2 linked regions of the Homo sapiens genome follow. Changing the gene in region 1 together with any one later gene gives a genetic interaction. Each region holds a gene or a part of one and is shown on either strand. Other genes may lie near its edges.

What was found.
Region 2: of NOP56 (region 1) and ATG10, changing one suppresses a phenotype caused by changing the other (phenotypic suppression), as found in Homo sapiens cells (one large-scale study listed by BioGRID).

The regions. Positions count from the first base shown.
Region 1 is NC_000020.11:2,651,132-2,654,731, forward strand, and holds the start of NOP56 (nucleolar protein 56), read left to right. Parts: upstream 1-1,500; 5' UTR 1,501-1,529; coding exon 1,530-1,532; intron 1,533-1,645; exon of another isoform or gene 1,646-1,710; coding exon 1,711-1,800; intron 1,801-2,147; coding exon 2,148-2,262; intron 2,263-3,080; exon of another isoform or gene 3,081-3,155; intron 3,156-3,282; coding exon 3,283-3,444; intron 3,445-3,600. UniProt on the Homo sapiens protein: Involved in the early to middle stages of 60S ribosomal subunit biogenesis. Required for the biogenesis of box C/D snoRNAs such U3, U8 and U14 snoRNAs. Part of the small subunit (SSU) processome, first precursor of the small eukaryotic ribosomal subunit.
Region 2 is NC_000005.10:82,167,518-82,171,539, forward strand, and holds part of ATG10 (ubiquitin-like-conjugating enzyme ATG10), read left to right. Parts: intron 1-4,022. UniProt on the Homo sapiens protein: E2-like enzyme involved in autophagy. Acts as an E2-like enzyme that catalyzes the conjugation of ATG12 to ATG5. ATG12 conjugation to ATG5 is required for autophagy. Likely serves as an ATG5-recognition molecule. Not involved in ATG12 conjugation to ATG3.

The sequences.
Region 1 (3,600 bases):
TCCGCCTGCCTCGGCCTCCTAAAGTGCTGGATTATAGCCCACCCAATCCTATTTTTTTAAATGCTGTCCATTAATGCATTCTGACTTCTTGCTTGAAAACCCCTGGTTTAGTGGATAAGCACCTGTAACTCCAGGAAGATTCAGGATTAAGGGCAGAAATAATGAAGTAAATTGAAGTATTAGCATTAGTATTTTCCATTACATTTTGGAATCGTCTATTTTGATGTATTCACGACGGTTAAAATAATTTAACATGCTAATGTATGGATTAACTTGGCAATTCCATTTTAAAATATTAAATGGAATAACGATTCTGACTCGTAAGTAGACATGTGTAACAGAATTCAACCACATCTGTAAACCATATTGAAATTATGAGAGTAAGATTTACCAACCACATTTAGGTTTGACATATTAGATTTGTGAGTGAACTATGTACTTGGATTTTGTCAAGTAACTCAATCGCTTAACAAAATAACAATTAAATGTATAAATGCAGTTTATAGCTATACATTATTTTTAAAAATCCCCTTCGAATGACTCTTTAAAACATACCAGGGGATACGCTACTTAAGTATAACTAGGTTTTGGATTTATAACGTTAATATTAATTATTAAAGCAAAACTCATTTCTAAAGAGTCGCCTGAGTGCCCAAAAGACGCCCTCAAGGACAGGGAAGCAGCTGCGATTCACTCAGCGATCACCAGCGCCCAGAATTCAGGGCCGCCCAAGCGGAGGAGCAACACGTGGCCCAGCAAAAGGAGCTGGGTCCCGTGCAGCACAGCAACAAGAAACTGGCCTAGGAAGACGCTGGAGCGTCTTTCTTTCGCACGTTACTGCCTGCTACAGTCATTTAAAAAAAAAAAACCAAAAACAAAAAAAAGAAATAAATTAATAGTACGAAGAAAACTGCGCGAGCTACATTCCCAGCAGGGTCTGCGCCAGAGCGCGCCAGGCACCGCTCCCGTTACGGGTGGGAGGAAAGGATGCACCGCCCACCCGGCGCCGGGGAGGCTCGTCCCCGAGTAGGGGACGGGAACGCCTGGGTCCCGGGGACGTGGGGCGCAGGGTCTGGGGCCCGAGGCCACGGACGAAGCGGGAAGCCGGCTAGGCAGCGGTCTCTGTCTGGGATGGACGCCGCGCCCCACGCGGACCTCCCGCCCCGACTTCACCCAGCTCTGCTGCCCGTAACTCATATGACAAGAACATCAGGAACCGGACTATTACCCCGAAAGGGCCTTCCCAAGTCGTTTCGCCGCCTGCAGTGCCCGACCGGGGGCCGCGCGTCCCCGGCAACCACGCCCGCCCGCGCAGCTGCAGAGGCCGGAAAAGGCCCGCTCGCCCGCGCTCGGCACCACCCAGCCCGCGCTCCGGGCGATACCACCCTGGGCGGCCCCTCCAAAGGCCGGAGATGGTGTCGTCCCCGGCCTCCGATTGGTCGGGGGGGCGGGGGCGTGGCCTCTGGAGCCTGGTTCCGCGCGCCGGAGCGCGCTAGCCGCATTGCGAGCCGAACCCGGGAGCTGGCGCCATGGTGAGGAGTGGTTGCGGGGCGCGGGCGACGCGACGGTGGGGGTTTCGGCCTGCGTTCGGGCCGCAGACAGGGCCTGGGCCTGGGCCTGGGCCTGCGCCTGCGCCTGCGCCTGCCCTGGGAACGGGTTCCGGCAGACGCTGAGGTTGCGTTGACGCTCGCGCCCCGGCTCCCGTTCCAGGTGCTGTTGCACGTGCTGTTTGAGCACGCGGTCGGCTACGCGCTGCTGGCGCTGAAGGAAGTGGAGGAGATCAGTCTGCTGCAGCCGCAGGTGGGTGAGATCCGTGGGCTCCTTTGGCGGCCCCGCAGACCCTCATCGCGCGGGTCCCAGCATGCACAGCGCGCTCCCACGTGGCCGGCCGAGCGGTTCGGGGCGGGGGGACGGGCCTGGAAAGCTCTAGATCCGGGGGTCTTTACCTTGACCCATGGGTAGAATCGCTCTAGCAATTAGAAATAAGCCTCCCGGACGCCGCCCCCGAACGATTAAAGCAGAAGCTGGGATGTGGGGCCCAGGTATCAGCATATTTTAAGAGCTTCCAAGGCTGAGAACCGCTGCTTGACTGCGCCGCAGAGGCAGGAGGGAGGGAAGGAAACCACTTAGCCTCTTTCTCCCCCCAGGTGGAGGAGTCTGTGCTCAACCTGGGCAAATTCCACAGCATCGTTCGTCTGGTGGCCTTTTGTCCCTTTGCCTCATCCCAGGTTGCCTTGGAAAATGCCAACGCCGTGTCTGAAGGTAAGTCGGCCACCGCCAAGTGTCACAGAGAGATGTGGTTCCTTTCGGTATCCTCTCGGGCAGCTTGTGATAGTATTTGCCGTCCTTGGCTGGCTCTGAGTCTGATAGGCGTGAGGCAGTATTTGAGCCATACAATGTGTAATTTGAAATAATTGTCTTCACAGAGCTCAAGGTCTGGGAACTGTGCTAGACCAAACTGTTTAAGCAGACGATGTGGAATGTGTGTTAACGTTTCCTTGTGGGCACTGTAGTGACAAACTATTTTTTATTTTTATTTTTTTTGAGATGGAGTCTGTCCCCCAGGCTGGAGTGCAGTGGCAAGATCTGGGCTCACTGCAACCTCTGCCTCCCTGGTTCAGGCGATTCTCCTGCCTCAGCCTCCCGAGTAACTGGGATTACAGGCCTGTGCCAGCCACCACACCCGGCTAATTTTGTATTTTTGGTAGAGACGGGGTTTCACCATGTTGGCCAGGCTAGTCTCCATCTCCTGACCTCGTGATCCGCCCGCCTCGACCTCCCAAGGTGCTGAGGTTGCAGGCGCGAGCGACGGTGCCCGGCCGACAAAGGGGGGTTTCTTAAAGGGGGTCGGCTTAACACCTACTTGTGCCTGAGGTTTTGCCTAAACACAATCAAGTGTCTGGTTCTCTGCTTTCTGTTCGATTGGAAAGGGCAGTTGGGTAAACACAGGCTGAGAAAAAAAGGTTTGGTTCCAGAAGGCAAATTCTACGAAATACTCGAGGGTGTGTTACAAGCTATTATTTATTGCCCACTTGTGCTATCAGACCTGAATGCAGTTGTTCCCATGGCTGGGCCAGGCTTTGCAGTGATGACTTGCGAATCAAATCTGTCAATCCCCTGAGTGCAATCACTGATGTCTCCATGTCTCTGAGCAATGCCTGATGGGGAGGGATCTAGGTATGCCATCCCAGCGTGCTCGGTGGGACCAGGGTAGTCAGCTGAGGGATGTTAGAGTTGATCGTCCTTCAGCCTGTTAGTGGGAACTGTGTTCTTTCCCCTGAGGGGTTGTTCATGAGGACCTCCGCCTGCTCTTGGAGACCCACCTGCCGTCCAAAAAGAAGAAAGTACTCTTGGGAGTTGGGGATCCCAAGATTGGTGCCGCAATACAGGAGGAGTTAGGGTACAACTGCCAGACTGGAGGAGTCATAGCTGAGATCCTGCGAGGTGAGACCATCATCTGTTATATTCCTGTTATCCTGGACATTTTGGGGGAGGAGGTTCTGGAAACTTGGTTGCTTGTTGTGATTTCTGGGAAGGCCTTCAGGCTGGGCTGGTGCCCGTGGGTGCGGGAGCTAGCTCAGAGCCCCTTGTTGCTCACCG
Region 2 (4,022 bases), on another chromosome or scaffold:
CTGCTATGCCAGGTTTTGAAAGAGGAAGTAATTCTGTTGTCTCCAGGAGACCTAAGACCCAAACCATCTATGTATCTTTACTCTTTAGTCTGATACTTTTCAGAGACTATAGGAGTAGTGGACTTAGAAAAATAGAACATCCTGAGGACTCAAAAGTGGGTATCCAAACTAGCTGAAGCAGCTGTTCCACTTCTATAAACACGTATTTTTATTTAATTCTTGAAGGCAGACAGCCAAGTTGAGACAGCATTCTGCTTCTGCCTCTCATTTCTACTACTTTGGTGTACAGGAGCTCAGTTACCAAGTGGGCAACGTGGATTTAAGAGAAGAAATAAGCCCTTCCATCCCAATGTTCTGTTTTTCTCTAACTACTTTTGTCATTGTAGGTTTGGGAGAGGTGGTGGGACACAGTTAATACCCTTTGTCACTCAGGAGAGGGTGAGACATAATTGCACGTCTGTTGAGTAATAATAAATAGCCTACATTGGAATAGTGCCTTATAGTTTAGTAAATCCACTCCCACAAAGCATTGACATCTTCAAGTGCATGCTGTTTTTTTTTTCTTTTTTTCCCACTGTTTTTGAAGCATACCATATTAAAGAATTTTTTGTATCATGCCAAAGCCTTCTATCCATTCCCTACCATTCTTATTCCCTGACCTTTTTATGTCTCATTTTCCCTTTTGAGGGCTCAGCTTTGATCAAAAGCTAGTGGCAAATGTTACAAAGGTGGTAAAACCCTTAGGCACATACATAATGGCCTTTTGCCTTACCAGAGGCCTAGGCTTAAATATTTTCTCCTTACATTTAGCTAGAGATTTCTATATTTATTTCATCTTGAATTCTGATTCATCTCTTTCTTTTCATTTGTTCTCAGTCTCTATTGAAAAATGGACCAAGTGGTTCTTCTTATTTTCAAAACATTTAATTCTTTGGATGACATATGGGTTCTTCTTGGGAGCTGTTTTGACATATTTCTTTAATTAGTCAGCAGGGCTGCATTTGAATAGAGGAGGAATCTTTTCCTCCATTCAGCAAAGGAATGGCTGTCCTTTATGGAGACCATTCTATTATTGGCCCAGGAAAAAAGGGTATAGAATTAAAAATGTAGCCTAAATATTTCATGTGAAAGATTTGTCCACTTGTTGTAGGCCTGAAGGATGCTCATGGAGAAACAGGGCAAAAGAAATAATCAAAGAATAGTTCCTTCTCAAAGGCAGCATGAATCAAACTAAGATAAACGCCATGATAAAGAAAGAATAATGGAAAGTTTGGAATTAAAGCAGCATATAAATCATCAAGCAGGAAAAGGATTGTCTGTGGTTTGCAATAAGAGGACATCTTTGGAGTGCATAGAGGAGAATGACAGCAAAACAGGAAAGATGGGGGTTGGAGGAAGCCGAAGAATAAAAGTAGAATATCCATAGCTCTGTCCAACAACTTGTAGAGGACAGCCACAGGTTGGGTTTCTTGAAGAGGTTAGGAAAAGCACTGTAGAAGGGGAGGAGAGTGAGTGCCAAGCTATGGGGGCTGGAGGGCTGGAGAGAGCCCACCATATTTGGAGAACAGTGAAGGACCAGTTTGGAGTAGGGGCTAACTTAGGATGACTTACGGAAGAAATAGTTGAAAAGATATGTTGAGGTCAAATTATGGAAGAGATAATGGTTAGGAAGGGGTTGGAAGATATAAAGAAAAAGTGAAAGAGTTTGAGCAGAAGTGAATGAGACCAGAGGAAGGATGTCCTAGAAATTGTGCCTGAGTAAAACAGAAAGAAAAGGAATTGAAGGGTGAGAGTGAAATTTGGAAAAAAAAAAAAAAGGATTTGGCTTTTTCATTGTTGTTGTTATTAATTTTATAACAATTTAAAAACAATAACCTCTTAGAGAAAATGAAGAAAATGAGTTGGAAAGAACATATTTTCGGGGAAAGATGTATTATTGCAAGTACGGTAAGAGTTATGGTTAAGGCAGCTTGTTGAATAGGAAGAAAAATAGTGGATTAGAGAAGTATTTTAAGACTGGGGCAAAAACGACTCTAGTTAATTACTACAGTGAGCAGAAAATAGAAAATTATTTGACAGATAATTTAATTTAGAGTCTTAATTGTAAAGAATCTTTAAGAAAGTTTGTGTATTTATATTTATGTTACACATATGTTTATGTAGACAGTAAATCTAGCCAAGGTCATGATAATGAACCATAACATGAATTTTGGTGAATTAAAAAGAGATTCTAGGGATTGAAATGAATTTGAAGAGCAAACAGTGAAAGTTATTTTTAAGAATAATGAAAAGTTATCTAACTAATACAAATATATTCAAACTGAAAAGTCCAAATAACAGAGGAAATCTAGTGAGAATTATTTGTTGAGCCATGTAAATGTTTGAAATATTTTGGGGAATTAGGATAGAAGTCACATGCTGGGTTAGAACATATGATAGCAATAGAATCTCATTGAAAAATCAAGCCCTGTTTTGAAAATGTACTAAAGGAAAGGTGCTAAAGAAATGGGAAGTAAAACTACAGAGATAGCTAGTTAGCCAAAAGGTTTATTCTAAGCAGAATATTGCTTAGCCACATATACAAAAGGCAAGAGATTTTAGTTGGACCCAGAGGCTTGGGAGAGAAAATAACAAGGTAAGTACATTAATTTTATTAACCTGTAAGCGACTGTATTTTAGCTTTCTTAGGTGAATGTTTGTGCCATATGGAAAAAACATCTCTTTGCTTACTATTGGCACAATGAGCCCTGTTTGAAATACCTATTAAAATATACATGAGTGCCTACTGTGTGCACAACACAAATCTCATTAGCCTCTTTTTAAAATATGCTGAAACAAATCACTGCCTAACTTGTAACTCATGTATTGTTTTTCTGCTCCTTCAAAGTCATCAAAGCAGTATTCGAGTCTATATGTTAGGTGCTGTTTTGAGAAGGCAGAGACTGCATTCCATGAGAAGGAGACCAGGTTGGATGGTGGAAGTAAGGGTATTCAAAGTGCTGGTATAGAGTAATATAGTAGTAATAGGTCCATGATGTGGGGATAATGTTTGAGGAAAGCCAGGAATACAAATTACTGAGTATTAATCTCAAGAGTTTGGGATCAAAACCTCAGAATACTTTGGATAGGATTGAAAATAGAGTGTTGGCAGGGCGCGGTGGCTCACACCTGTAATCCCAGCACTTTGGGAGGCCGAGGCTGGCAGATCACCTGAGGTCAAGAGTTCGAGACCAGCCTGGCCAACATGGTGAAACCCCATCTCTACTAAAATACAAAAAAAAATAGCTAGGCATGGTAGCAAGCGCCTGTACTCCCAGCTACTTGGGAGGGTGGGGTGGAAAATCGCTTGAACCCTGGAGGCGGAGCTTGCAGTGAGCCGAGATCACGCCACTGCAGTGACAGAGCGAGACTCTGTCTCAGGGAAAAAAAAAAGAAAACAGAGTGTCTTCTGCTTTAGAACCAGCAGACCTTAGGCTGTAGATATCCAGCTGGTAGTATGGTTCTCAGATTTCTGGATCAATAGTGGTATCACAGGGCTGATGTCTCAGGTATCTTGTGGACCCAATGTTGCTTCCCTTGGGACCATTTTCTGATTCAGAGGTTCATCAAAATGGTCTTATATGTCCTTTACTAGGTTAAGTGATTCACTTAATTTAAATGGAAGGGTATAACATCACTTGCGTTATTCCATGTTTCTTAACACTGTGTGTGGACAGTTTAAGATGATTCATAATTGCTCCTTTATGTGCTATTGGGCATATGTTCATAAAAATAGATTGTAACACACATAAACTTTCTCATGTAATTAAAAACCATGTTAACATCTATTTTTTCTATTCAAGACTGCTAGACAAATATATAACATTTTAAGCTGATAATTTTGAAAATATTTATTAAGCAAGACTTTTAAACCATCTATTTGTGCTATATTAGATGTGTACCCCTGGTTGCAAATAATTTGATAAGCAGGAAAAGGCTTATTGAAGGGTAGATCGTAGAGTCAACTGAAGGTGGTAGAATGA